Regions from separate parts of the Homo sapiens genome. Here all the other regions are linked to region 3. Evidence: fine-mapped expression QTL. A gene starts in region 3. Each other region holds a variant in brackets. All regions are shown on one strand. Distances are between the middles of the regions. Region 1 holds the start of ELF3 (E74 like ETS transcription factor 3). Region 2 holds the start of MIR6740 (microRNA 6740). Region 3 holds the start of RNPEP (arginyl aminopeptidase).

Evidence for each region. PIP is the estimated chance that this variant, and not a neighbour inherited with it, causes the effect.
Region 1: its variant is fine-mapped to the expression of RNPEP in anterior cingulate cortex (GTEx, PIP above 0.99).
Region 2: its variant is fine-mapped to the expression of RNPEP in whole blood (INTERVAL, PIP 0.94).

What each region holds. Positions count from the first base shown.
Region 1 is chr1:202,009,427-202,019,995 of GRCh38, reverse strand. ELF3 (E74 like ETS transcription factor 3) reads right to left here and starts at 9,409. Exons shown (of 9, transcript NM_004433.5): 1 at 9,290-9,409; 2 at 8,697-8,867; 3 at 7,818-8,039; 4 at 7,560-7,652; 5 at 7,237-7,356; 6 at 6,960-7,049; 7 at 6,698-6,814; 8 at 5,972-6,167; 9 at 2,813-4,787. The coding sequence starts at 8,859. The coding sequence ends at 4,673. It overlaps ELF3-AS1 (ELF3 antisense RNA 1), which reads left to right and starts at 9,643. Exons shown (of 2, transcript NR_146472.1): 1 at 9,643-10,196. RefSeq lists enhancers at 1,295-2,063, 5,566-6,765, 7,575-8,509, 8,510-9,443. The variant A/G (reference allele first, on the strand shown) is at 7,262.
Region 2 is chr1:201,998,927-202,007,675 of GRCh38, reverse strand. It overlaps RNPEP (arginyl aminopeptidase), which reads right to left. Exons shown (of 11, transcript NM_020216.4): 6 at 7,661-7,774; 7 at 6,188-6,300; 8 at 5,909-6,017; 9 at 4,215-4,439; 10 at 3,180-3,322; 11 at 1,533-2,118. The coding sequence ends at 1,960. It overlaps ELF3-AS1 (ELF3 antisense RNA 1), which reads left to right. Exons shown (of 2, transcript NR_146472.1): 2 at 7,349-7,625. MIR6740 (microRNA 6740) reads right to left here and starts at 4,552; the gene lies at 4,440-4,552. RefSeq lists an enhancer at 2,702-3,344. The variant T/C (reference allele first, on the strand shown) is at 3,683.
Region 3 is chr1:201,978,482-201,989,050 of GRCh38, reverse strand. It overlaps RNPEP (arginyl aminopeptidase), which reads right to left and starts at 6,403. Exons shown (of 11, transcript NM_020216.4): 1 at 5,938-6,403; 2 at 7-147. The coding sequence starts at 6,384. SNORA70H (small nucleolar RNA, H/ACA box 70H) reads right to left here; the gene lies at 10,456-10,569. It also overlaps the pseudogene RPL10P4. RefSeq lists silencers at 2,927-3,101, 5,818-6,497 and an enhancer at 6,708-6,767.

The DNA.
Region 1 (10,569 bases), 31 kb before region 3:
GCCGAGATGGCACCACTGCACTCCAGCCTGGGGGACAGAGCATGACTCCGTCTCAAAAACAAAAAGCAAAAAACTTGACAACTTGTTGATTTTTTTGTGACTGTGGCAAACATATCTGTAGTAGAAGGCATGGTGGGTAGTTCAGTGGAGCTCTTATAGGCCAGTGGCAAATGGAGGCAGGGGTGGCTTCCTGAGTGCAACCTGTGCGGTGGTCCCACAGGGCCCTGCGCTTGGAGGACTGCACCTCGCGCATGGTTCATGCTCTTCTCTGCTGTTGCCATTTTGAAATTTTTAATCGTTCTTTTTTTTTTTTTTTTTTGAGATGGAGTTTCTCTCTTGTTGCCCAGGCGGGAGTGCAGTGTCATGATCTTGGTTCACGGCAACCTCCGCCTCCCAGGTTCAAGCGATTCTTCTGCCTCAACCTCCAGAGTAGCTAGGATTACAGGCGCACACCACCACGCCCAGCTAATTTTGTATTTTTAGTAGAGATGGGGTTTCGCCATGTTGGTCAGGCTGGTCTCAAACTCCTGACCTCAGGCGATCCACCCGCCTCGGCCTCCCAAAGTGTGGGATTACTGGCATGAGCCACTGCGCCCAGCCTAATAATTCTTTAACAAGGGCCCAGGCTTTCACTTTGCACTGGGCTCTGCAAATTACCAGGCCTGTCCTGACTGGAGGCAAGGGCTGAACCCATCTGGTGGGGGAAAAGGGCCAAAGAGGAGGTCAGGAAATGCTTCATAGAAGGACCCCGAGGGAGGAGGTGAGTCGTGCAGGCAGGCCTGGGTGTGGCTATGTGAGACTGTGAGGTGGGAGTGTGTTGCGTGCGCTGGTGTGTGCAAGTGTGTGAGGTTGTGAATACGGTCCATGCGAGTGTGTGAGAGCAGGCAGCGTCTGCAGTGCGTGCAGGGGCATGTGAGTGAGGGCTTGTGAATATTTATCTTTGTGAGTGTGAGTGTGTGTGACTTTGGTTCCCATGAGTGTGTATGAATGTGTGTGGTGTGTGGGGGAGGTAGTGGCCAGGGCAGGGAGAGTCACGGGGCCATTTAGCAAATATTTATCGAGCACCTCCTCTGTGCCAGGCGCTGTGCAAGGTGCTGAGGTGAGTAAGCCCCAGCACTTGCCCAGAGGTGCTCACAGCCCGGCGAGAGAGAGAGATGTGTAAACAGACAACAGCAGAGAGAGAGAGCAGATTGAAACCAGACTCCTCAGAAATGCAACCCCTTCACCCACTTCCCCCAGGAGAAGCCAGACTTCCCCAGAATTGGTGGGACAGGTGGGGCTGTGGGATAAGCCAGGAACTGTCCCAGGGGGCCAACCCCAGCCCCTCCTCAGGCACACCCAAACACGACGGGAGGGGTGACCTCCCTCTGACCTGCTCAGCGACACACCCAATCCCACAGAAGCAGATAAGAGGTGACCAGCAGCTCCGGCAGGGCGGGATATAAACAGCCCGGCCCTGTGGCTTCCTCCCCACCCCCACTCCCCAGCCCAGGACACACCTGAGGGGATGCAGACTCTGGTGGGCGAGAGACCGGGCCGTCTCCTGCTAGGAGGCCCCTGGGCTGGTGAGAGTCGGGGTAAGGGTGACTGGTGCCCGACAGAGAGGGCAGCACGGAGGCCAGCCCAGGGGCCCGTGCCAGGACTCTGCAGCATCCTGAGGGGTGAGAGGGCAGAGAACTGTTGGGGAGAAAGGCGTCCCTCCCAGAGCTGCCGTCTTCCAGGCTGTCCCAGGCGCTGCCCTGCAGAGGCCACCTGCCCAGGTGGTCTCACTGAGCTGCAGCGTGGAGGCAGGCATGCTGTGAGCTGGCCCCGCTCTCACCCAGTCAGTGACTTCAGCCCACCACTAGCCTTGTCAGTAAAATGGGGACACCTGGTCTCCTCAGCGAGCTGTGGGGCGGATCAAATGAGATAATGGGATGAGGAAAGCGCCTCATAAACTGCAAATGGCAGGGCAAAGGTCAGCACGCAGCGGGCAGCACCTGCCCCCAGCCCTCCAGAAGAGGGTGAAGGGGCTGAGCGCCATATTCCCAGCCCTCCTCCCTGCTAGGATCTCCTTTAGAAGCTGAAGAGGCTGGGAGTCAAGGGAGGCTGAACAAGCATGTCCCGGGCTCTAGAGGCCCCTCCCCCACTTCTTGGCTAGGTGACTTCAGGCCACACTGGGTCACCTCTCTTCTTTTTTTTGAGACAGAGTCTCCCTGTGTCACCAGGCTGGAGTGCAGTGGCATGATCTTAGCTCACTGCAACCTCCGCCTCCTGGGTTCAAGTGATTCTCCTGCCTCAGCCTCCTGAGTAGCTCGGACTACAGGCGCGTGCCAGCATGCCCAGCTAATTTTTGTATGTTTAGTAGAGACGGGGTTTCACCGTGTTGGCCATGATGGCCTCGATCTTCTGACCTCGTGATCCTCCCGCCTTGGCTTCCCAAAGTACGAGGATTACAGGCGTGAACTACCGCGCCCAGCTGGGTCACCTCTTTTAAGGGTGCAAGGACCCCGAGATATTGTGGCTAGGGAAACTAGACCAGAGTCTAATGCATAATTTCCAAGAAATGGGGTCATTTTTAGACTAAGTAGCTGTGAAAGCTTCCCCAGCTTCTGAGGCTAGACCTACGCCCTGGCCCGCATCCCCTTTGTCTAACTGGCTCACACTTCAGAAGGGAAATGTAAGTAAAAGCCTTTTTCCAAATGGCTCCAGGATTCTGGTTTCTCTCATGACCTCACTTTCCTCTCCAATCAACTTCCCCACTCTCCTTTTCCACCATTCCTTGCTTCTCCAGAGCAAGCTGCATTTCCAGAAATCCACACACAAGCTTTAGTTTTTCTAAGATCCCTTCTTTATCCACATCACTTCAGCCAACAATCTGATTGGTATTTCCAAGACAACAGAGCAGTATTTCAAACTCATGAATGGGATTTTAATGTGCTGTATGGAATTTGAAGCCTCAAACTTAAGGAACTTTCCACCTGGAAAGCATTCTTAAGTAACATCAATGAACTGTCCTCCCTAAAACCTAGACACAGTATCACTGTGGAAACAGAGTAATAGTTCTGGAATCGATTGAGGATTAGGTTAGAAGCGCCCACACCAGGAAAAGCTTCCGGGAAACGGTTTTAGGACAGAATCAAGGCACACCTGTGGAACCTCTTTCTGCATCTGTCAAATGGGGACGCTGTGTCTCCTCTCTTCTTAGGAGAGGATTAAATGAGCCAGAGTGGGCTAGCACAGTGCCTGGCATGAGACTACAGTTTCACTGGGTGCTATACTCACTACCTGGGTGACAGGATCATTCGCATCCCAAGCTCAGCATCACACAATATACCCATGTAACAAACCTGCGCACGACCTCCTAAATCTAAAGTAAAAGTTGCAATTAAAAAAAAAAGAGAAAAAGACTACACTTTCAACAAATGCCAACTCCTTCCCTCATTCTTTCTCAGCAAGTACTCATCTCCATTTTGTTTTGTTTTTTTTTTTTTTTCCTTTACAAGATCCTAACTCTGATTTTGTCAGACTCAAAAGCTGGGATTCATATTACAGATATACAGTTTACAGCACACTTGGCTGGAATGCAAAACCATCTATTCCACAAGGCCAGCCATGCAATTCTAGACATCTTGAGAACATCAGGTCCAAACCCTAGCCTAATAGGAAAAATCAGTCCTAAACAGGACAGACTTGGTCAAGGTCAAGGTCACTCGAGCGGTGTCATGACAGCAGGATGCTTCTGACCTCAGTGTTCTGAGTTCATGTCCTTGCTTGCATGAAGTCTTGTAAGCGTTCTCCAACAGTCTCAGCTGCTTCCTTTGCTCGCCTCCCAGCCCAGTCCATGTGTCTGTAAGCCCACACCTGCTACAGGAAATCTGTAACTCCCCTCTTCGTCAGCCTTTGCCCTCACCCTCAGCCTGGTAGACCTTCATTTTCCTCCCCTCCAACCTCTTGACCATATTCGATCCAAAGGCCCAAATTTCAGTACACAGGTAGCTAAGACAAAGGTTAGAAAAAGCCCAGAAGGCACTTTATTGGAGGTCTCTGCCTCCATTCACAGGAGAAAGGAGCTGGGAGCCCCATCCTAAGGGTCCCAGCATCAGCCCACTGGAGGGCCTGGAACAGTCCAGCACTCTGTGGGAGAGGAGTGGGGAGGGGAATGTTTTAGAAAAAATAGATCTCTATGTACATCTGACATATTTATATAGCACATAAATTAGGGAGTGCTCTGACCCCTGCCCGTGGAGCCCAAGCACTGAGCAGGGAGGTGAACGCCAGTCCAGAAAGAAGGTGCTGGAGCCCCTGCTCTGTCCTCTCCATCACGGTGCTCCCCTAGGGCCTCCCCAGGCCTCCTTGGCTCAGTCCAGGTGTCTGCAGGAGGAAGGTGTTGTCTGCATTTAGTGTCTGAGACTGGGTTTGAGGAGGCACCAGATAAAAGGAGATACACTTGCAGCTATAAAGTCAGCTTCAAACCCCAGGGCTTGTAATTCCAAGAGGAGGGTGGGGAGGCGAGGCCATAGTCTCCGAGTCCCAGGACGATGGCTGACAATACACCAAAACATCAGCTTCTCTCCACAGCACAGCTGGGAGCATTCCCCAGTGGAGGGGCCATCTGGCCTGCCTGTCCTCCCAGGAAGGTTTGCAGGCCTCGAGTGGTCCGTGAGTTTGGTCCCGGGTATAGTTCCAACCCTCAGTTCCGACTCTGGAGAACCTCTTCCTCCTTCCAGCCGCTTGAGTTTTTGCCAAACTTGTAGACGAGTCGCCGGCCATCCACCCGTTCCAGGATCTCCCGTTTGTAGTAGTACCTGGGTGAAGAGAAGGATGGTCAGAGGTGCTTTGGCAGGAAATGGGCCCCAGGCTGCCAGCCCGCCCACCTGGCCCGCGTTACCCCCAGGTAACCCATGCCCACTGGTCTCTGCCTGACTAAGCTGAGCCTGACTCACACTTCCTAAACTCCTCTGTTCTTCACACTGGCAAGCAGAAGCTCTTTCCCTACACTGGCCTGTAACCGTGCCCAGGACACAGGGCTCTTTGCCTTTGCTTCTTTGTATCCTATGGCTGTGACTGGGGTCTGATCATTAAATTACATGACTTTTAAGGCCAGGGAGCTGGGCACGGTGGCTCACACCTGTAATTCCAGCACTTTGGGAGGCTGAGGCGGGCGGATCACTTGAGGTCAGGAGTTCGAGACCAGCCTAGCCAACATGGTGAAACCCCCGTCTCTACTAAAAATACAAAAATTAGCTGGGCATGGTGGCAGGTGCCTGTAATCCCAGCTACTTGGAGGCTGAGGCACAAGAATCACTTGAACCCGGCAGGCAGAGGTTGTAGCGAGCCAAGATTGTGCCACTGCACTCTAGCCTGGGTGACAGAGCGAGACCCTGTCTCGAAAAATAAAAAGAAGAAGAAGAAAAAAGAAAAGGCCAAGCATACTGGCTCACACCTGTAATCCCAGCACTTTGAGAGGCCGAGGCAGGAGAGTCATTTGAGGCCAGGAGTTTGAGACCGGCCTGGCCAACGTAGAGACCCTTGCCTCTATTTAAAAAAGAAAAAGAAAAAAAAAGTAAGTACATGATTTTAGGGCTGGACGGGATCTTAAGATGATCTAGTGTACTCCTGGACACAGGAGGAAACTGAGGCCCAGAGAAAAACAACCTAAGTGCTTCAACGAGGAGAAAGCCAGGCCCTGGGTGGGCACGGCTCCTGCCCCCTTTCCCACTCTCCAGGTGCCTTCCTGAGGACAAGCCTCACAGGCGATACAAGAAATGTTGCTGCTAGCTCAAGTGCACTGTGTCTGCTGTCTGCCAGGCTAATACTTTCTCCATGTTGTCATTTAATCCATGAAGTAGACCAACCCAGATGTTGTCCTCACTCTAAGGACTCAGCCCTGTTGCAAGAAGCCAAGTGGCAGCCAGAAAGAGGGCGGTGGGAGTGTGAGCGCCTGTCCCCATGTCCGGCTGTATCGTGAGGGTCCTGGCCGCCAGCTCACCTCATGGCCCGGCTCAGCTTCTCGTAGGTCATGTTGCTGTTCTTTTTCTTTTGGCCCCATAGTTGGGCCACAGCCTCGGAGCGCAGGAACTTGAAGACGCCTTCATGCCGATTCTCCCACTTCATGAGGCCCTCGTTGAGCTCCGGGTGGATGAGGATGTCCCGGATGAACTCCCACAGGTGGGTGCCTCTGGGCGCTGCAAGGCCAGCCTCCATCAGTTTGCCATCCAGGTGTCCCCTCTCACCCAAGGCCAGCCAGCCCTGCCCGCCCCAGTGCACTGCTGACTTGGCCACAGCATGCAGCAAGCCTCTCCAGAGACCCCGCAGTGCCCTCTGTGCGGGTACTGCAGTGACTGCTTTTCTCCTCAGCCCACCTAAGACCCACCAGCTGCCTCCTCACATTGAGGGTGTCCCAGAGGGCAGGACAGTGGCCAAGTGCAGAGAGAACTGGAGTCAGTGGACAGGACACTGGAGTCAGTGGACAGGACTCTGGTACCATGAGCCTCCCACTGGGAGCCTTATTTCCTCCTCCTCTCCAGGACCACCAAGCCAGGCTCTGCAATTAGGTGGTGACCGATACCATAGAGCCCCCAGCTTGTGCACAGCCTTACCAAAGGCCATGCGGAGGCCAGAGAAAACGGGAGAAGGGATACCTGCAACAACCCGCAGTGCCCCAGGAAGCCGCTCAGCCCGGCGCAGGGAGGACCCACGTGCCCCCGGAGCTCACCGTGCTTGCTCTTCTTGCCCTCGAGACAGTCCCAGTACTCTTTGCTCAGCTTTCGGGGCCGGCCTCGTTTCCGCTTCCCGTGCTTGGGATCCCCCTTCTTGCAGTCACGAAAACCATCTGTGGGGACGGTGGTGGAAGGTCAAGGAGGGGCAAGAGGGGAGTTAGGGAGAGTAGCCCCTCTACAGGAAAAGGCTGCAGGAAGAGCCGGGCCCCCTGTGCATTGCTAAATGGGACGCCCTCTTGGGGACCTCCCTCGACTCACCGCTGGGGAAGAGCTTGCCATCAGTGGGATCCAGGTCCACGTCACTTCCACCGGAGTCTGAGGAGTGGGAGCTCCGAGAAGCACCAGTCCCTGGGGGGCGGGGTCAGAGTAAGTCCCCTGCCGGCCCACCCTCTGCTCAACCACGCTGCTGGCTCTCAGGACACACTTCCCAGCCTGTTCCTGTTCCTGCCAGAAGGCCTGAGTTATGGTGCTGGGAGCCAGAGGGAACAAGGGACACTTCGGGGAAGGGAGGTTGTGGCCCAGAGAGAGCTCTCACCTGCGGTGGAGACGTCAGAGCTGCC[A/G]GGGGAGGGGGCTCCTGCGCCACAGCTGCCGGGGTGGTAGGGGCTGGCTTGCTGACCGTCGTCCAGCAGCTCCTGGGCAAAGGGGCTGCCCTGGTCTGGGAAGAGGAGGTGAGAACTCAGAGAGGGCTCAGGGGACCAGACCAGGACAGGTGATGCTGCCCATGGGTCTGATGACCTGCTGCAATTTTTCTAATTGAGGGAGGAAGAAGTCTGGGGAGGGGGTCATCTCTAGCACTCTGTGGAGGGGCAGGGATGGGACAAGACAGGCTGGGGAAGGAAGGAGAAAACGGGTTCTCACCAAAGGGCCCTGGGTCTAGGGCCTCCTGGAAGGCCATGCCATCCTTCTCCAGCAGCTCAATGATCCAACTGAGCTCATCAGAAGAGCTGGAAGCTGACAAGGAAGGAAGGAAGGGTCACACTCCCCTAATCCCTCCCTCAAGGGCTCTCTCTGGCTGTGCAGCTGGCCCAGAGCTCCAGGGCCTGCCTACGGCCACACTGAACTCGACTCAGCTCAACATGTGGAGCTGCTCCCCAGCCTCCAGGGGCCTGGACTCACTGAGGTCTCGCAGCTGGGCATGGAGTTGGTCCCCCAGAGGCCCAAAGACCAGACGCAGCTCCTCAAGGGCACAATTGCAGAGGGTGGCGCCATCCATGTCACATCGTGAGAAGTCAATGGCGCTTGCGTCGTACTTGTTCTTCTCCACTTGGTAGCTGATCCAGTCCAGAACCTGCGTCTTCGACCAGAACTGGGGCTGTTCCCCCAACCAGCTGGCCTTCTCTGCAAGGGCCAGGCAGGGAAACAGGCTCAGCTCAGGCCACCCAGCAGACCTTACAGCCCCATTTTTTTTTTTTTTTTTGAGATGGAGTCTCACTCCTGTCACCTAGGCTGGGGTGCAATGGCACAATCTCGGCTCACAGCAACCTCCACCTCCCAGGTTCAAGCGATACTCCTGCGTCAGCCTCCCCAGTAGCTGGGATTATAGGTGCCCACCACCACGCTGGGATAAATTTTTTTTTGTATTTTTAGTAGAGACGGGGTTTCACCATGTTGGCTAGGCTGGTCTCGAACTCTTGACCTCAGGTGATCCGCTCAGCTCAGCCTCCCAAAGTGCTGGGATTACAGGCGTGAGCCACCACTCCCAGCCCACACAGCCCCATTCCTGGAGCACACTGGGGATTCACACCTCAGCCCTTGGAGCCATCCCAAGAGTAGGGGCAGGAGGTAGCATTCACAACACCCTTGTCCTGGTATCTGACACCTCCCTCTGCCTGTCACAGCCCCACAACCCCCAGCACCTCAGTCACTAAGTCTCAGCCTCTAGCCCTGGAATTTGCCTAGAGACCCTCCTCCCTGCCTATTCCCCCATTTGTCTAACAGGCCCTTAGATGGATCTGTCTCCCACTCCGTGCCCCATCCCACCCCGCTGAGACCCACCTGTACCCTCCAATGACATCTGGGGGTTGCTCAGGGTCAGTACCAAGTCATCGGCCCCAAAGGTGGCAGCAGGGGGAACAGAGGCCAGGGTGGAGTCCTCCGAGCTGTACATCGCACTGAAGTAGTTGCTAAAAATGTTGCTAATCTCACAGGTTGCAGCCATGAGGCTACCTGTGGGTAGGGGGAGAGAGGATGAGGTTGGTGAGGGGACGAGGGTCCTCTCCTTACACTCCCAGCTACTCTGCTTTGCCCAACCCTGGGCAAGAGTAGCCCCCAGGGGCAGGAAGATCAGCAACTCTGCGGACACCGTCTCTTCAAGAAGGGCTCCAAGATCTCAGACCAGGGCAGGACCACAGGAGCCTCCAGCTGGGCTTCCCTCCTCAGATCTCTGGGGCCCTGGAGCCAGACTAGCGGCGTCATGGCCATTCTGCCTTCCCAGAGACAATCTCTCTCTGTTCTTTGACCCTCAGGACACCTACGCTCTTGCTCGGAGATCCTAGACTGGAGTGTGCAGGTTCAGAACTGCAAATCCTCTGGACCCCTCTGCAGTTTCCCAAGAGCTGGGCTAGGGAATGACAGGCGGGGAATCCTACCGGAGTGGCGGAGTCCGGCTGTGGCAGGCAGGCCGGCAGGCGGGAGAGAAATCCAGTTCCGCCAGGTAGCGCTGAGGTATCTGGCCGCTGCGCTCCCCTACCCGGCTCTAAATAGAGCCTGGAGGGAGCTCCTCCCTGAGCTCAGGGCTTTATAGTGTGTCCCCTGCAGTAACCTGAGCTGGTGTCTCATTGGATGGAGGGGATTTCCTGGCCTTTAGACTGGGCTCCTGGCCCCAGGTGATTTGCATATTCAGTGCCACTTGGCCCGGATCTTAGCAGGCAGTGCTGGGAAATCAGGCCCGGCTGGTTTAATGATTGTCAGAGTCTGTCATCCCGCACCCTCTGGGGTTGGGCACGGGGCACTGGCCTGGGCAGGTGGCGGGAACGTTGCTGGGGTGGGCATCTGTGCTTTCGGCTGCCCTCTGGCCCAGGAAATTCCTCCCAGGGGCCAGGCCAGAGATGGGCCAGGCAGGGGGAGGGCAAGTGAGGGAACATGAACCCCTGGCTGACCTGAGTCAGAAAGCTGCTGGCCCCTAAATTCCAGAGATTCAGCAACAAAGAGGCCTAGTAGGGAGAGGAGTTACTAGGTTTAGGGGTTTTTCCCAGAACACCCAGGACTCTGGCCAGGGGCTGGAAGGTGCTCCAGGCTCAATGCTGGGCAATACTCATGGATTAATTGGTGCTGGCTGGGCCTGCCAGCCTAGTCGTGGCCCCAGGGTCCCCACTAAAGGGCTCCTTCTCCAGCGCCCACTCTGTTGGCAAGGTCTTCACTACCATCACCTGCCTGGACTCCATCCAAGCATCAGGGTTGCTGCAGTCGCTCCTGAAGAGACCCGGCTCTGCTTGAAAGTTCTTCCCTCAGCGCCTGCTGGAGCCCTCCCTGCCGGAGTTGCCAGAATCCACACGGGTAAGTTCATCCCTGCTCTCTGGACCCCATCTAATCTCTGGTTCACTCGGCCCAGTTTTCCAGTACCTTCTGCTGCCCTCTAGTGGTCAGAAGCCTGACTACCTGGGTCACGTCATTCAAAGAAGAGGGAATGCATAGTATTAATATATTTACCAAGCACTTTTCAACATATTCTCTCATTTAATCCTCACACCAAAAAAGTCCTGTAAGGAATGCATGGTTATTCCCATTTTATAGACATGAAAGTTGCAGTGTGGAGGGTTCCCTTAGAATGGCTTGCCCAGGCCACACAGAGTTGGTGAAGGGGTGGAGCTGAGATTCACATCCAGGTATGCAGGTGTGTTGTACACAAAACCCTCGCTCTTTCCCTGCA
Region 2 (8,749 bases), 20 kb before region 3:
AGATAAAAGGTTGGGGAGAGGGGGAGACAACTGGATAGCCCTAAAATAGTCCTTGCCAATAACATATTGCCAGGAACAGTCCTGAAAGAGCCACGGAAGCAGTTTGCTGTCAAAATGCCAGTGCCTGGAGAAGCTCTTCCGATACCGGGCCTCCAGATCCCTCACCTATGACCCACATCACCCTCTCTGATGGTGGAGCTGTGTGCCACGGGGCAGAGGCCTCTCCAGTCTACCACTTGGTCACCACTAGTCCCTTGCTCTTGCTGAGTGAAAGCAAATCGACTCATTCCCAACCCTTGTGCAGGGGAGGGAGGAAGCCTGTTCGATAACCTAAATCCGAGGACAGAGCAGAGCTGCGAACAAAGCCTGTTTCAGGGGTGCCCTGTATTTAAGAAAGGCAAATGAAACACACTAAATATTTCTTCCAACCCTCCCCTCATCCCACTCCCAAACCCAGATTGCTAACTGTTTAGGTCCCCATGTTGAGGCCAGGAAATCAGAATTTAGTGCTAAGTTCTAAAGACTTTACTGATTACCATTCAAATAGTTATCTAGGATCAAAGACAGGTGAGGCCCAGTGAAGCCTTGGGCATGGGCAGAAGGGTAGATAAAAAGTCATAAGACACTTTATTTTTATTTTTGAGACAGGGTCTCACTCTGTCACTCAGGCTGGAGTTCAGTGGCACAATCAAGACTCACTGTGGCCTTGACCTCTTGGGCTCAAGTGATCCTCCTGCCTCAGCCTCCTGAGTAGCTGAAACCACAGGAATGCACCACCACGCCCAGCTTTTTTTTTTTTTTTTTGAGAAGTCTTACTCTGTCACCCAGGCTGGAGTGCAGTGGCATGATCTCAGTTTACTGCAACCTCCACCTCCCAGGTTCAAGTGTTTCTCCTGCTTCAGCCTCCCAAGTAACTGGAACTACAGGTGTGAGCCACCATGCCTGGCTAATTTTTGCATCTATCTTTTTTTTCAGTAGAGATGGGGTTTCACCATGTTGGCCATGCTGGTCTCAAACTTCTGACCTCAAGTGATTTGCCTGCCTCAGCCTCCCAAAGTGTTGAGATTACAGGCGTGAGCCACCACGCCTGGCTTTTTTTTTTTTTTTTTTTTTTTTTTGGTAGAGATGAAGTCCTGCTATGTTGGCCAGGGTGGTCTCAAACTCCTGGGCTCAAGCGATCCTCTCGCCTCAGCCTCCCAAAGTGCTGGGATTACAGGCATGAGCCACCGTGCCCAGCCCATTTTTTTTTCTTAGTGATGGAAAAGATAATGGGAATGCTGCTGCAGATAGAGAATTCAGCTGCTTCACGGAGAACTGGAATGCTATTCCTTTTTCATTTTCCTGCACCAGCTGTGCCATTTTGCCATATTTTTTTTCATATGCATGTGTAGGACACCCACCTCCTTCACCCTGGCTGTTCCCTGAGGACAGGAAAATACTGTCATTCTCTGGGCCTCCCCCAGTGACCTTTCCTGAACAAACACAGTGAGGACCTCTGGTGGAAGAAATTTAATAGTCACTCAATCCGTAACTTAATTTTTGCTTGAAAACTTTATTAAAATAAGGATTAAACCTGAAAAAAGAACAATCAGAATGCCAGCCCTTTGCATAAAATCAGCAAGAAAAAGGACAGAAAGAGAAAAAAGAAGAGCATCAGTCCTCTCCACTTCTTCCCAGAGACTTAGGTGGGGAGGAGAATACCCGCTGCCCTGCAGTGCCTGCAGCCTGTAGCGGGGAGAGCTGTGGGCAGGTTCTCTGTCTCGGGGCTCAGTGGGCTATAGAGAAGTAAGTTCCCACCAGAGCAGAGGCCCAAGAGTCACAGATACCTAAGCTAGAGAATAGATTATCCTGAGGGGATATAAACTCCAGGAAGTTGATCAGGGAACAGGAATTTGGGAACAAACAATTATTCTGAAAGCCTGGAGAGCCTGAAGAGGCAGGGGCCATGCACACGAGCCTCTAACTGCCCTTGGGTGCCACGATCTGCTGGACATAGTTGACAACATTGCTGTGGAGCTGGGAGGCGGTGGATGCAAAAGTCTCCTTGGCGAGGGTCTGGGCCACCTCACTGCCACCCATCATTGCGTGGTACAGCGGAAGTGTATACTTCTGCTTCCCCTGCAAGAAACACACATACACATGCCTAAGAAGCTTGCCTGGTGGATCTGTCCAGCCCTGCTGCCCCCAGTGCCAGTCTAACAGCAGCCATGGCTAGGTGCTAAAAGGGATGTGGGCATCACAGCTGGAATGAGGAGCTTCTCATCAGAAGTGCTCTAATTCAGGCATCTTCTTGGGCGCCAGAGATCCATGGAGATGGATCTCAATACGCGTCCCAATCCATACTAACATGGGGACGTCTACAGTCAACAAAATGAATGAGTTGGGTGGACACAATGGGATTCCAGACTTCTGGAAAGGTGTAGGTGGTGAGCCACCACGTGAATAGCAGATATCAGCAGCTGCGGCACATAAAGCTCACAGCCGCATACGGTCCAGCTGCAGTCAAGCAAAGGAAAACCCACAGGTCAACCCACAGGTCAAATTCACACAAATATAAGCCAGCGACATCACAAGTTCCTAAAATCCAGAGCCTTGAGGAAGCCATCAAAGGGCTCAGAATATCCCCGAACAGGCAGGCAGCCCTGACTTTATGCAGAGCAATGCTTCGTCTCCGGTCCAGCCCCTCCCTGCTCCGGAATCTGATGACATTCAGTTCATCCTGAGAGCCCGGGGCCTTTCCCCAACAGGGCAACTTTCACATAGTGACAGAGGGTCTGGCTGCTGTCCCGATCATGCCCAAGTCACAGGGCAGCAGGGACCTATCCTCCAAGCCTTTGTTCCTCTTGCTCCGCCTCTGGCCCCTTTCCCTCTTGTGTTTCCCACATGACACTGTCACCCTCTTTCCCGCCTCTGCGTTGGCTCTGGCCAGCTTTTTTCCCTGGGGTCTCACCAGCTGAATTGCAGAAAGCACTGCAAGCCTGCAGGCCTCCTCTTGTCCCTAGGGCAATGCCTTCAAAGCCACACTAGTAAAGAGGCTGAGTGGTAGGGTCCTCAGGTCATTTGCCCCTCCCTCTGTGCCTCAGATGAGTCCTAGATGAGCCCTGCCCACATGATTACTTCACATATGGCCGAGTGGGTCCCAGTGTGCTTTCGGGAACAGCGAGGCAGGGGTCACCCACCTGGTTATGCAGGAACTCCTTCACTTTCCAGAAATCTTCCTGGTGGTCGTTCTTAAGGACGATTTGGCCCCATCGCAGCCGGAGCTCTGCATTCCGGGCATTTGAGATACTTGGGTATGTGTCTCCAAGTTTTTTCACATTCCCTGGAGAAGAGAAAGAAATGGTTTGTGGCTGGTCACGGTGGGTCACACCTGTAATACTAGAATTTTGGGAGGCTGAGGTGGGCGGATCACTTGAGGTCAGGAATGTGAGACCAGCCTGGCCAATATGGCGAAACCCCATCTCTACTAAAAATACCAAACAAAACTGGCCGGGTGTGGTGGCGCACGCCTGTAATCCCAGCTACTTGGAGGCTGAGGTGCTAGAATCAAGAATCACTTGAACTCAGAAGGTGGAGGTTGCTGTGAGCCAATAGCACCACGGCACTCCAGCCTGGTCGACAGAGCAAGATTAAAGCAGACATATTCCCCCAATATCTGTCCCATTTTTTCTCCTACCACTCA[T/C]CTGCTAAAAGTCATCTTGGCTCTAACTTTTTTTTAACCCCTTGGTGAATATTATGTTGACTGAGCAGCCACAAAGCATTAGAGGTTGAGAGCTCTGGATGACTGGGTTCTGTGCGAACTGTTTGTACCTCAAGTTCATTCTGTCACCTGGGTATTAACATCACACCGCCTACTTCCCAGAGGAGTTGTGGGAATTAAATGACTTAATAGACACAAAAGCCTTACAAGAGTCGCCTGCAGGAGCTTCGGACTTGAGCAATGCCAGGCTTTGTGACTTTGTCCTTGAGGTGCTTGTAAGTAGAACCCATAACCTCCCGATGGCACATTCCTTGTGGAGTGCCAGCCTCCCTAGTGTACGTGGCAGTCCCCTAACCCATAACCTCCCGGTGGCACATTCCTTGTGGAGTGCCAGCCTCCCTAGTGTACGTGGCAGTTCCCTAGGGGCAAGCATCACTACTTTTTGTGAGCCTCCCTCTAGCCCCTGACATAAAGCTGTGCACACAAGGAGCCCTGGTTCACCATTTTTTCTTACCAGGAGGGAGAGGGGATTTCTGGAGGATCTTATCCAGGAAGTAGACCAGCTGGTAGGTCTTCCAGGGAGAGATGGCCACGGCTTCAATGGCCTTCATGTCCAGCTCCTCGGCTGCCCACAGTTGGGCTAGCTCTTCAGCAGGCTTCATGAGTGAGTCCCCAGGGGAGAGATCAGGGAGGTACGGGGGCCAGCCGGGGGTATTCAGCCATCGATCAAACTCAAAACCTGTTTGGGAGGAGAGAAGACACTATCAGAATTCTCTGGCCAGGTTACGGTCAACTGGTTTAAGCAACTCCCAGAGACCTCAAGTTTCTCCTCTCTCCATCCCAAACTCTTTCCCCAGCATTTAACATTACTTTCCCATGTAACTATTCGCTCCAGCAGGGTCCTAGTTATAACGACATCTAGAGACTGTGCCGTTTCGACCGTGAAAGTGCTTTTCGCTCCAAATTAGCACTGTGTTGTCAGAGCCAAGTTGGTGGATGCTCTATTCACGTGCACATTCTCCTACCGATCACAACCACACTGTACTTAAGCACCCAGGCTCTAGGACCAGGCTGCCTGGGTTCCTACCCCTGCTCTGTCATTAACCAGCTGGGAGGCCACGGGCATGTTACTTCACCTCTCTGCACCTCAGTTTTATCTATAAAGTGGGGGTGATAGGCCCTGCCTCCGTGATGGTTATGAGGATTACATGAGCAAATAAACATTAAAAGCTTAGCGTATCGCCTGATGCATAGTAAGTACTCTGGAATTATTAACTACCATTAGCTCCGGAGTCCCCGCATTAAAATGCAAGCCTCCAACCGAACAGTAGGTGCTGCTAAAGTCCTGACCAATCCTACTGTCAGAGGACGCGGACTTCATCAAACCAACAATAGAGTGACTCAAGGTTCAGGTCACAGCAAGAAGTGGGGGTATGTCTAATGGATTGTGTCTTCCATGACAGGACATTTTTCGTTTTTTCTTTGGAAGTGGTACCTCCCAGGCAGAAACTGGCGGCTGGGCACAGCGGCTCACGCCTGTAATCCCAGCACTTTGGGAGGCCGAGGCAGGTGGATCACCTGAGGTCAGGAGTTCGAGACCAGCCTGACCAACATGGAGAAACCCCGTCTCTACTAAAAATACAAAATAGCCGGGCGTGGTGGCGCGTGCCTGTAATCCCAGCTACTCGGGAGGCTGAGGCAGGAGAATCGCTTGAACCCGGCAGGCGGAGGTTGCGGTGAGCCGAGATCGTGCCATTGCACTCCAGCCTGGGCAACAAGAGCGAAACTCCATCTCAAAAAAAAAAAAAAAGAAAAGAAAAGAAAGAAAGAAATAAGGAGGGCCACTGGGGTTGCCTTCACTCAGAAGGCTGTAGGAGGGGTGCTGCCTCCGCTCCTGCCCTGTGAGTTTTAGCTTGGGGCAGTGGTGCGGCAGCAGTGGCAGCTCTCCAGGCAAGTTAAGGGTCTGACTGTGTGTCCAGGTGAGAGGAGAGAGTAAGGAAACAGACTGGGAGAAAATGAGGCAGAGAGGAGTGAAAAGAAGTCATTCTTGTGGAATAAATCCCAGGATTCTGGGTTTGCTTCCCAAAACGCCCCTACCTAGCTGACTCTGACCCAGTGTTTTCCCATCCACCACCATCTTTCCGAGTGTCAATGAGATCTCATTCTCTACTATTTTTTAGAAGCCTGTGGGCCAGTTCCTCTGCTTACCTGGAATGATATCCACTCTCTTTTTCTTAAGCTCAGGGAAATATTCCAAGTAGAAGTCCAGAAAGTCATCGGCTAAGATGCTTCGGAATTTGAATTCATGCACATAGGCCTGTGAGGAGGGAAAGCTCTTTAGACCCTCTCTGGCCCCGTGGGGAGTGGTGTCCCTCTGTGTCCTGGGTCCTCCTCCAACCCCTTACATCTTTCGCCCCCTGCCTCTACCCTTGATCAGGCCCAGTGGCTTTATCCGCTCCTCTTCCTTCTCCCCTCATGTGACTATACCTTGAGAAAACTGTCAAACTGATCCTGATCACCCACCAAGTGGGCCAGGTATGAAACAAAGCAGAAACCTTTCTCGTAGGGGGTCTCATTATAGGTGTCGTCCGGGTCAACGCCTGGCAGAGGAGAAAGCAGACAAGATTTGAGCTTTTGTAGCCTGTCACCCGTAACGTTCTTCTCTAGCTCCACAGTCAAAGACTAGCGATGGAAGAGATCAGAATTCAGCTTCCCCAGGGACAGCAAGGCCAAGAAGGTGTCCAGATCCTGGCCTCTCTCCAGATCTTGGACTCTCTCAAGGCCAAGACTCTCTCTCTTAAGATCTCTATCTCAAGGCCAAGATCTCTCTCCAGATATTGGCCTCTCTCAAGGTACTTCCAAGATCTCAGAGGGCCATTCACTGTGGATCTAATATGAAGACAGAGAAACCAGCCTTCCAGAGGAGCGGACACATTTCCTTAGTCCCAGGATACACTTTGTGTGGGTAGGTTCCATCAGCATTTCCCACTGAGCACCAAGCTGTGTCTTTTCCATCCCTATTGGTCACCACCTAAATACTCAACCTACCCTCCCAGATCAATGTTTTTTTTTTTTTTTTTTTAAGACGGAGTCTTGCTCTATCACCCAGGCTGGAGTGCAGTGGCACGATCTCAGCTCACTGCAACCTCTGCCTCCTGGGGTCGAGCGATTCTCCTGCCTCAGCCTCCCCAGTAGCTGGGATTACAGGTGTGCATCACCACACCCAGCTAATTTTTGTATTTTTAGTAGAGACAGGGTTCTCCATATTGGCTAGGCTGGTCTCGAACTCTTGACCTCATGATCCACCCGCTTTGACCTGGGATTACAGGCGTGAACCACCATGCCCAGCCAATGTGTTGTTTTTACAGCTGTTCCAGGCTAAAACTAATTACCCGTCTCTAAGAAATTCATCTGCAAACTTAACGGCATCAAGGAACATGAGCTTCAATTGCATAAAAAGGTTTCAGATTAGTCACACATGGAATGAAGGAAAATGTTAGGAAGTAAAAAGATCTGAATTTGGAGAGAGGACCCGGATCTCAGTTGCAGTCATGCACTGATTAGGTACATGACCTGGACAAGACACTTAACTTGTCTGGCACTCAGTCCCATCCTCTGTAAAATAAGGCTAATGCTTTTATTCTACAGAATCCACAGATCTGCCCTGATGATCATGAAGGAATGCGAAAGAGCCTGGTAAAACGATATGGACTTGTGCAAATGCAAAGCAATGGTGAAGTCATCACGAACCGCACAGACTGGACAGAACTCCTATCTGGCTGCAATGGCTTGGGTTCAGTCAGCCCAGGGGCCAGAGAATTGGCTACAAAGAGCTCTGGAGTGCCCCTCCCTCCAAATAAAGTATTCTAAGCGTGCACTGATCAACATGAAGTTCGCATTAACTTGGGGCTCCAAGCTCAATTGAGGGGAGTGGGTGTCAGACAGAGGAGCCTCCTGGACCTGGTTCAATCTTCACGCGGAGCTTGTTGAGTGGGTTTTCCTCTCCAGTGATGTCCATGTGCTGACGCAGCAGAGCCCGCCCCGTTGCAGCCTCCAAGCAGGTGTACGCAGCGCCTGGTGCAGAATCAAACGTAAGCCTCGGGAAAACGTCTGTCACCACATCCAAGTGTATTTTCCTGACAGAGACACTGTGCTGCCTCCTTGTGGCCTCAAGAAGAACAGCGACAGATACCTGAAGCTTAATAACATTACCCTCCTGGGGACCCAGGGCAAATAGGGACAGTTACAGAGAGCCTGACTCAGTCCCTAGCTCCCTGTTGCTGTGGGCTACAAAGGACTTGGTTAACTCAGGCTGTTGGTCTCTCTCCTAAGTGAGGACTGGGGGAATCGCACCTTTCTGACAGTTACCTTTCCTTATCAAAGTACTGTATTTTTATTTTATCTTATTTCATTTATTTTATTATTTTATTTTTTGAGACAAAGCCTCACTCTGTCACCCAGGCTGGAGTGCAATGGCGTGATCTTGGCTCACTGCAACCTCCGTCTCCTCCTGGGTTCAAGCGATTCTTCTGCATCAGCCTCCTGAGTAGCCGGGATTACAGGTGTGCACCACCACGCCCAGCTAATTTTTGTATTTTTAGTAGAGAGGGGGCTTTACCACGTTGGCCAAGCTCAAACTCCTGATCTCAGGTGATATGCCCGCCTTGGCCTCCCAAAGTGCTGGGATTACAAGCGTGAACCACCACGCCCAGCCCCCGGCCTTATTTTTAGAAAATGATTTGATTTTTTTTTTTTTTTTGAGACAGAGTCTCGCTCTGTTGCCCAGGCTGGAGTGCAGTGGCACGATCTCGGCTCACTGCATCCTCCACCTCCTGGATTCAAGCAATTCTCCTATCTCAGCTTACCAAGTAGCTGGGACTACAGGCACACACCATGATGCCTGGCTAATTTTTGTATTTTTAGTAGAGACGGGGGTTTCACCATTTTGGTCAGGCTGGTCTCAAACTCCTGACCTCAGGTGATCCACCTGCCTCAGGCGTGAGCCACCATGCCTGGCAATGACTTGATCTTCTGTGAAAACTTAGAATT
Region 3 (10,569 bases):
CCTTACCTCAATAAGAGCTGAATACTTGTATTTAACAGCAGGCGTGTCGAAGCAAGGGAAGAAGGCCCGGTTTAGGACAGCCTGGCCCTGGGTGTACACGAAGGGCTTCTTCTTTCCTGCTGTCTGCTCGGGAGCCAACCAGCAAACCTAAGCGAAAAGAAGAACATTTCAGAACTGACATCTCCCACACGAGCTCAGTCTGGCCAGAGAAGTGAGCTGGCTGGAATGAGAGAATTTTAGGTAATCCTTAAAACCTTTCCGCCAGCCAGTCTGGTTTGAACTAGAAAGCTCTCTCCTCTGTGTATTTAGTTCATCCTGGAATCCATGCCAAAGTATGACATCCACTTCACAGGGCAGAGCCACCAGAAAGGGTCCATTCCTCACTGCATCCCATGGGTCATCTCAGAGACCTTGGACCGAGCCTCTGATCTTGTCATCTGTACCCTATCTGTGTCCTTTTCACTGTAGTAGTTTCTCATCAAACAAAAAACTACTGAAGCAACTGCATTTGGACTTGTGATAAGACACAGAAAAGCAGAACTCAACTGGGAGTCAGTGATTAATATGTTTTTTTTTTTTTTTTTTTTTTTTTTGAGACAGAGTATCGCTCTGTCGCCCAGGCTGGAGTACAGTGGTGCAATCTCGGCTCACTGCAACCTCGACCTCCCAGGTTCAAGCAATTCTCATGCCTCAGCCTCCCAAGTAGCTGGGACCACAGGCGCGTGCACCACCAAGTCCAGCTAATTTTTGTATTGTAAAGATAGGGTTTCACCATGTTGGCCAGGCTGGTCTCCAACTCCTGGCCTCAAGCAACCCGCCCACCTCAGTCTCCCAAAGTGCTGGGAATACAGGCATAAGCCATCATGCTCAGCCTAATATACATTCTCTTTTCTTTTCTTTTTTTTTTTTCGAGATAGAGTTTCACTCTTGTCGCCCAGGCTGGAGTGCAATGGTGTGATCTCAGCTCACTGCAGTCTCCGCCTCCTGGGTTCAAGCGAGTCTCCTGCCTCAGCCTCCCAAGTAGCTGGGATTATAGGCATGCACCACCACATCCGACTAATTTTGTATTTTTAGTAGAGACGGGGTTTCATCATGTTGGTCAGGCTGGTCTTGAACTCCTGACCTCAGGTGATCTGCCCGCCTCAGCTTCCCAAAGTGCTGGGATTACAGGCATGAGCCACTGCACCTGGCCTAATATGTGTTTTCTGTTCCTAAAATTTACCTTTTCAGAAGAAAGGTATTTTATATAATAGGCACTGGTTATATGATTCTTTATCTGTGTTCTGTTAGCTCTTAAACAAAGGGCAAATCTGGGTTGGGTGCAGTGGCTCACGCCTGTAATCCCAGCACTTTGGGAGTCCGACGCAGGTGGATCACTTGAGGTCAGGCGTTCGTGACCTGCCTGGATAACATGGTAAAACCCTGTTGCTACTAAAAATACAAAAATTAGCCGGGTGTGATGGCATGCACCTGTAATTCTAGCTACTCAGGAGGCTGAGGCAGGAGAATTGCTTGAACCCAGGAGGCAGATGTTGCAGTGAGCTGAGATCATGCCACTGCACTCCAGCCTGGGTGACAGAGCGAGACTCTGCCTCAAAAAAAAAAAAAAAAAAAAAAAAAAAGTAAAATCTGAATGATTTATCACAAAACCCAGTTTTTGCCTATAGCAAACAGCCATTCATTTACCTGGAAGAGGGGCAGGATGGAGCATAGGTCAGTAACAAATAGCATTTAGAATTTAGAAATGGATTCGATTACTCCAGGATGATTTCATAGGGGAAGAAAACTTTCTGGCTGGACCTTCAAAGACACGCAGGATTGAGATGGCTGGAAAGGAAGGGAGGAGACATTCACAAGGAGACGAGCAGCAACATGAGGAGAGGCATAAACAGATGCAGGCTCCAGATGCAGAGTTGGGGAGGCAGGCCTGGGCAAGTCTAATGAAGGGTTCTGAACACAGCAGTGTCTGAGACCTATTTTAAGAGGCATAAGGAAGCTACGTTGGGATGCTGGGTTTGAGTTTTTGTGTGTGAAAAATTTAATTAGTCTCCTTATAACAGGTACAGTGCAGTATAGAAAGGGATGAGAGAATAACTTCACAGTGGAGAAAGCTGATAATCACTGCTTCAGCCAGGGGACCGAGGTTAACGCTGACAGTCATAAATCATGTGGATACTATGCGCCCTCAATACCTGATGAAAATGGCACTTTGGCTGGGCGCAGTGGCTCACACCTGTAATCCCAGCACTTTGGGAGGCCGAGGCTGGTGGATCACCTGAGGTCGGGAGTTCAAGACCAGCCTGGCCAACACAGTGAAACCCTGTGTCTACTAAAAATACAAAAATTAACCAGGGTGGTGGCATATGCCTATAGTCCCAGCTACTTCGGAGGCTGAGGGAGGAGAATCGCTTGAACCAGGGAGGCGGAGGTTGCAGTGAGCCGAGATCACACCACTGCAGTCCAGCCTGGGTAACAAGAGTGAAACTCCATTTCAAGAAAAAAAAAAAAAAAAAAGAAAGAAAATGGCACTTTACCTCTGTGAATTGCCCCTCAAAACCCATAATCCCAATCTAATCATGAGAAAACATCAGATAAATTCCAATACAGGGTCATCCTACGCTATACCTGGCCAACACTCCTCAAAACTGTCAAGGTTGGCTGGGCTCAGTGGCTCACACCTGTAATGCCAGCACTTCGGGAGGTCAAGGCAGGAGGATCGCTTGAGGCCAGGAGTTTGAGACCAGCCTGGGCAACATAGGGGGACCCTGTCTCTACAGAAAAAATAAAAATAAAAAAATAAAAAACAAAAAACTGGCTGGGAGCAGTGGCTCATGCCTGTAATTCTAGCACTTTCTTTGGGAGGCCAAGATGGGAGAATTGTTTGTTTGAGCCCAAGCGTTTGAGACAAGCCTGGATAACACAGTGAGACCTCATCTCTACAAATAATAAATTCAAAAAATTAGCTGGGCGCAGTTGTATGCGCCTGTAGTCCCAGCTACTTGGGCTGAGGCAGGAGGATCACTTGAACCAGGGGGATCAAGGCTGCAGTGAGCCATGATTGTGCCACTCACTGCACTACGGCCTGGATGACAGAGCAAGACCCTGTCTCAAAAAACAAACAAACTGTCAAAGTTATATCAAAAACAAGGAAAGTTTGAGAAACTGTCACAGTCCCAAGAGGATACATGACAGCTAAATATAATGTGGAATTCTGGATGGCTTCCTGGAACAGAAAAAGACATTAAGTAAAAACTAAGGGAATCTGAAAAAACTATGGACTCCAGTATCGGTACTGGTTTATTAATTATAACAAATATATTATTATACTAATGTAAAATGATTCAATCTTGGTTAATAATATATCAGCATTGTTTAATTGTAACAAATGTGTCATACTAATGCAAAATGGTAGCAAGAGGGGAATCTGTGTGTATATGTGTATGTAGGAGGTACTGAACTGTATATGGGAACTCTCTGAACTGGCTGCTCAATTAAGCCAGGCATGTTGGCTCATGCTTGTAGTCCCAGCACTTTGGGATGCCAAAGCGGGCAGATGGCTTGAACCCAGGAGTTCAAGACCAGCGTGGGCAACATGGCAAAACCCCATCTCTACAAAAAATAACAAAAATTAGCCAAGTGTGGAGGTGGCAGGTCTGTGGTTGGTCCCAGCTACCCCAGCTACTCAGGAGGCTAAGGTGGGAGGATCACTTGAGCCAGGGAGGTCAAGGCTGCAGTGAGCTGAGATGGTGCCACTATACCAGTCAATAAGAATTGATCAATTGACTGATCATTGAATGCCATCAGTCAGTGATGTTTTTACTGATCAGCTAGGAAATGAGTATTTTTTTTTTTTTTTTTTAGATGGAGCCTCGCTGTGTCACCCAGGCTGGAATGCAATGGCATGATCTCAGCTCACTGCAACCTCTGTGTCCCAGATTCAAGCGATCCTCCTGCCTCAGGCTCCCAGGTAGCTGGGTTTACAGGTGTGAGCCACCACAACCAGCTAATTTTTGTATTTTTAGTGGAGGTAGGGTTTCACCATGTTGGCCAGGCTGGTCTCAAACTCCTGACCTCAGGTGATCTGCCAGCCCTGGCCTCCCAAAGTGCTGGGATTACAGATGTGAGCCACCACACCCAGCCTGGAAACGAGATTTTTAAAAAGAACAATGTAGGGAGCTTTTTGATCCCTTCTCAAAAAAAAAAAAAAAAAAAAAAAAAAAAAAAAAAAAGAAAGAAATACAAAAGTTAGCAGTAAGAGCTAACACAGCTTACTTACCATGTACCACGCACCATATTAACCACTTATGGAAAGACAACTCATTTAACCTATGTCAAGCACTTAGACTAGTGCCTGGCTCATCTTATTAAATATTAGCCATCATCCCCCCTCCACCAAAATTGCTTACTCATCATCTTTGCTTTTTTGTTGTTGTTGTTAAAACAGGGTCGCACTCTGTTGCTCAGGCTGGAGTGCAGTGGTGTTATCAGGCTGTGAAAGGAAAATCTCTTGGGCCCCCAAAATCACTAAAGAAAACTCAACCTGGGAACCGCTTAGGGCACACCTGCCTCCCATTCTATTCAAAGCCACTACTCTGCTCACTGAGATGGATGCATATCTGATTTGCTTCCTTTGGAAAGGCTCATCAGAAACTCAAAAGAATGTAACCATTTGTGTATCACCTATCTGTGATCCGGAAGCCGCTTCAAGTCTTCCTGCCTTTGCTGCAAGTTGTCCCACCTTTTCAGACCCAACCAATGTACTTCTTACATATACTGACTGATGTATCATGTCTCCCTAATGTATAAAACCAAGCTGTGGGCCGGGCGCAGTGGCTCACGCCTGTAATCCCAGCACTTTGGGAGGCCGCCGAGGCAGGCGGATCACGAGGTCAGGAGTTCGAGACCAGCCTGACCAAAATGGTGAAATTTTGTCTCTACTAAACAATACAAAAATTAGCCGGGTGTGGTGGCGCACGCCTGTAGTCCCAGCTACTAGGGAGGGTGAGGTACGAGAATCGCTCGAACCCACGACGCAGAGGTTGCAGTGAGCCGAGATCTTGCCACTGCACTCCAGCCTGGACGAGAGTGAGACTCTGCCTCAAATAAATAAATAAAAGATTAAACTGTAAGCAAGCAGTTTACTATGAAACTTGCAACCAACTCTACCTGAGAGATAACTGGCAGCCACAGCCTAAGGACTCTCCAGGAAGGATTTTCTGACTCTTACAGACATAAGCCACATAACTCCATCCTCTTATTTCCAATATTTGCCCCGTCCCGAAAAAAAATTAAAGAGTTAACCAACAGTGAGAAGGCCAAATTATTATAATGCTTATAGCACCCTAATTCCAGTTCTCACTTTTACTCAAATTCTTTCGTTAATCAAATCCAGGACTTCACAGGAGGAAACAAAAACAAAGATAAGAGCTTTAACCGTGGAACTAGAAGGCAACACAGAACAAAGAGCTAGATCAACATCTGGCTAATTCTAGAGCCACCATAAAGCAGAGATAAGGTGGCTGATAATCAGGTACCTCGGCCCAAAAGTCCAAGAGGGCACTAAGTGAAGTGCATGAACAACAGGTCATCTAGAAAGCCACGGAAAATGTTAGAAACGGCAGTGTGCGATGAGCGGGAATGCGGCGCAATCTGGACAAGCCTCCAGGGCCAGGGAGGAGACGCGGAAGGACGGAAAGGGTGAAGGATGCACCGCCCAGTGGCTGGAGGAAGTCCAGAAGGAAACCAGGCAGCCCGGGAGGAAAAGAGGAAGCAAGGGGAGGAGGCCTAGAGGCGGCGCGCGGGGAGTAGGCCCCTCTAGGGACGCTCTGGAAGGGTCCTCCCTGTCCCTCCTCCCGGGTGGGGTAGGTGAGGGTGCAGGGCGGCTGGGGGCCGGAAGGGCAGGCAGGCAGCGGCGGGCGCAGTCTGGGGCGCACTCACCCCGGGTCCCTCCCCGACGCGGTAGGTGAGCAGCACCTGGAGGCGCTCGGCGGCGCGGCAGGGCTGCGGGAAGGACACGCACAGGGCCTGGCCATAGTGCGAGAAGGGCTGCGTGTAGAAGCTCACGGGCTCCGCAGGCGGCTCCTCCGAGCCGGGCCGCTCCCGCCGCAGCGCCGCCGCCGTCACCTCCAGGCACGGGTGCGAGTCCAGCCGCAGCTCGGCGGCGCCCTCGGGCTCCAGGCAGCGCAGGTCCAGGACCGCGGTGCCGCTCAGCCCCCGGCTCCCTGCGCCGGGCCCTGGAGGCCCGAACTCAGCCCGCAGGTCCAGGTGCAAGTGCAGCAGCTCAAAGGCCCGGAAGTTGGAGGCCGAGGCCACGTCCACAGCCTGCGCGGAGTGCAGCGGCCGCCGGGCCGCGCCGCTGCCGGGGGAATGCTCGCCGCTCGCCATGGCCGCAGAGCCGTTGCTCACCGGCCGGGCCGCGAACCCGAGGGGAGCCCCGCCCCGAGCGCCGCGGGCCCGCCCCCGCCGCGCGGGCCCCGCCCCCGAAATCTGCTCCCGACCGCATCCCCTCCCTGCGCTTTACCGCCCACTCTTCTAGCTGCACCCGTGCCTCGGGACTTAGGACAAAAGAGGCCGGTGGGATCGTGTGGCCCACGTTTGCCCACCCATATCCTACTGAGGTGTTCCAGTCGTCCCGGTGGGGCACCCTTCTCTGCTGACCCTTCCTGCTGCCTCATCTAGGCAGTGGCGTGGACTGAGCCCTGGCTGGGAAGGTCTGAGTTCCAGATCTCACACCCTGCGATAGGCCAGTTGTTAGAACTGTGTGTCACCTTGGGCAAGTCGCACAAGAAACATGAATCTTCCCGAGCCTTTTTCTGCACCAGTATAATAGAGTCATAATATCTGTGTATCTCACGAAGTAATGTGAGAACTCTACCAGGTAACCTGTCTAACACACTCAGCAAACAGTGAAACCCTGCACAACTTCACGGAATTCACACTGGATCGAGCCTCGTCCCCCAGCAACTCCAGGCACGCCTATCTTTCTATTGTTGGGTTAAGGGACAGGAATCAGCACCGCGCAATTTAAGGCCTGGCTGTCCATCGCATGTCACTTCTATTTCCCTTACTGTATTGTACCGCTTATTGAGCTAGGGTATTCTCCGCTGAATACTTTGTTTCTCTTCTGTACCAGTGGGTTGCAATGGGCCTTCTATGAATAGGAGCTAATCAATGATGATGTTTTTACCGTTCAGCTAGGAAATGAGATTTTTAAAAAGAACAATGTAGGGAGTTTTTCATTAAGGGAAATAGTATTCCGTTCTGTGCTTCCTAGTTTTGTAGAGTTGAAATTATTTTATTTCATGAAATAATGCTTATGGTAGATAATGACTTTAATATTCCATGTAAGTTCAATGTCAGGGTTTTTTGTTTAACTCCAGAAACCTTAGAAACCTGCTTTTCTGTAGCATTGAGAACAGCGCTTGGTACATATTAGACGTTGAATACTCCTATCTTGAAATTATTCAGTCTTCGATGCAATGCACTTTTGCTGAGTATCTGCTAGACACCAGTTGTTAAGCTAAGTGCCTGGGGTACAGTTTGAATAAGTCCGGCACAATTCCTCTTCCTATGGTGTTCATAGCCTAACTCACATTTTAGCAGACGCACAAGAAAACAGGTCACGACACTTCCACGTGCTGCGCTTGATACGGGAAGAAAAGGATGCTGGGGAGCACAACGAAGAGATGCCTAGCCTGATCCTTCTAGTTAAATATTGACAGAGGAAGAGGATGTCATCCTTAGCTAAAGGGTAAAAGATTTTAGGCTGGGTGTGGTGGCTCACGCCTGTAATCCCAACACTTTGGGAAGCTGAGGCAGGAGGATCGCTTGAGCCCAGGAGTTCAAGATGAGGCTACGCAACAGAGGGAGACCCCCTCTCTACAAAAACATTTTAAAAAATTAGCTGGGTGTGGTGATGCACACCTGTGGTCCTGGCTACTCAGAGGATGAGGTAGGGGTATTGCTTGGGCCCAGGAGGTCAAGGCTGCAGTGAACCATGATCATACCACTGCACTCCAGCTGGGGCAACAGAGAAAGACCCTGTCTCAAAAAAAAAAAAAAAAAAGATTTTAGGAATTATATTATTTCCCCTTATAGCCTTACTTCTTCCTGGGAATACCAGGAACCTCATTTCCACTTCCGCCTCCCTGCATGGCTCCCACACTGTCTAGTTTGCCTCAGAACTGGCCTGTAGATGGCCTGTAATAACTTACAGTGGAGAGATTCAGGAATTCAGAGAATTCAGGATTGTAGAAAGGGGACACTGTGGGCACAGCCCACCTCTCCCCCAGTTCATTTTCATTATTTATTATTTATTTGTGAATGCTTAGAATGCAACATATGTTGGACATTTCAAAATAATGGCCACAAATTTTCCATTCCTGATTCTATAGATTTAAAAGTTACAGGGCCGAGTGCAGTGGCTTATGCCTGTAATCCCAGCACTTTGGGAGGCTGAGGCTGGTGAATCATTTGAACTCAGGAGTTCAAGATCAGCCTGGCCAACATTATGAAACACCATCTCTACTAAAAATACAAAAAATTAGCCGGGCAGTAGTGGCACACACCTGTAATCTCAGCTACTCGGGAGGCTGAGGCAGGAGAATTGCTTGAGCCTAGGAGGCAGAGGTTGGAGTGAGCCAACATTGCGCCACTGCACTCCAGCCTGCATGACAGAGTGAGACCCTGTCTCAAAAAAAAAAAAAAAAAACAGTAAAAAGTTACAATAAATTATTAGCAAAAATAAAAATAAAGCTACCTATAGACATGTTTTAGTTAAATTGAAGAAAACCAAGACATAAAGATCTTACAGCAGTGGAAGAAAAGAGACAGATTATCTACAAAAGAATGGCAATTAGAAATTGGACCAAGGTGCCAGGTATGTTGGCTCACACCTATAATCCCAGCACTTTGGGAGGCCAAGGCGGGCGGATCACCTGAGGTTGGGAGTTCGAGACCAGCCTGACCAACATGGAGAAACCCTGTCTCTACTGAAAATACAAAATTAGCCAGGCATGGTGGCGCATGCCTTTAATCCCAGGTACTCCGGAAGCTGAGGCAGGAGAATCACTTGAACCTGGGAGGCGGAGGTTGTGGTGAGCCGAGATCACGCCATTGCACTCCAGCTTCGGCAACAAGAGCAAAACTCCGTCTCAAAATAAGAAATTGGACCAAGGGCAGACCTCTCATTAGCAACATACAAGCTGGAGACATTATCTTCAAAATACTGAGAAAAAAAAGCCAACTGTCAAATTGGAATTGTATACCCAACTAAACTATTATTTGGTCATGTGCAGTGGCTCAAGCCTATAATCCCAGCACTTTAGGAGGCTGAGGCAGGAAGATCTCTTTAGCCAAGGAGTTCCAGACCAGCCTGGGCAACACAGGGAGACCCTGTCTTTATAAAAATAAATAAAATTAAAAATGAACTACTGTTAAAAAGTAAGGGAAAACAGATTTTTAGATAAAAATTGAGAGTATTTACCATCCATAGACTCCTAACGAAGAAATTCTAAAGGAATTCTTTTTTTTTTTTTTTTTGAGATGAAGTCTCGCTCTTGTCCCCCAGGCTGGAGTGCAATGGTGCGATCTCAGCTCACTGCAACCCCCGCCTCCCGGGTTCAAGCAATTCTCCTGCCCCAGCCTCCTGAGTAGCTGGGATTACAGGCGCCTGCCACCATGCCTGGCTAATTTTTGTATTTTAAGTAGAGACGGGGTTTCACCATGTTGGCCAGGCTGGTCTCGAATTCCTGACCTCAGGTGATCCGCCTGCCTCGGCCTCCCAAAGTGCTGGGATTACAGGCGTGAGCCACTGTGCCAGGCCAGGAATTATTTCAAGAAGGAAAGGAATCACTGAAGGAAAGAATGAGATGCAAAAAGGAACAGTGAGCAAAAAAAGTAGATAAATTTAAACAACTGTATAAAACAACACTAATAATATACTAATAATGTTTATGTGAGGGAATCAGGATAAAACTAAAATAACAGACTAAAAGTACATAAGAGAGAGGGGTAACTGAAGTTAAAGCATTTTTTTTTTTAGGTGGACAGAAAGTAGAATTTATTGGTGAGTATTAAGAGGGGGCAGCACAGTGGAAGCCCTCATGAGTGCAGGACCCGCCACTTGTCCAGAGGGCCATGATTGGGAATGTACTTGACCCATCTGGGATGAGCCGCTTCTCAGCCACCATGTCTTCAAATTAATTGGCATTGAACTTGGTGAAGCCCCATTTCTTTGAGATGTGGATCTTCTGGCGGCCAGAAAACTTGAACTTGGCCCTGCGCAGGGCCTCAATCACATGCTCCTTGTTCTGCAGCTTGGTGTGGATGGACATAACTTGGCCAATGTGAACCCTGGCCACAGTGCCCTGGGGCTTTCCAAAGGCACCTCGCATGCCAGTTTGGAGCCTACATTGGGGTAGTGTAAGGTCAGAAACATGAACATCCATCTGAAAGGACTGTCTCCAAGGTCCCTTAGAGCAACCCATACAACAAACAGGCTGCATACACTACCAAGGAAGCTGCTATTTACAGCCATTGCACACTGGGCCCCCATGAGGAAAGGAACTC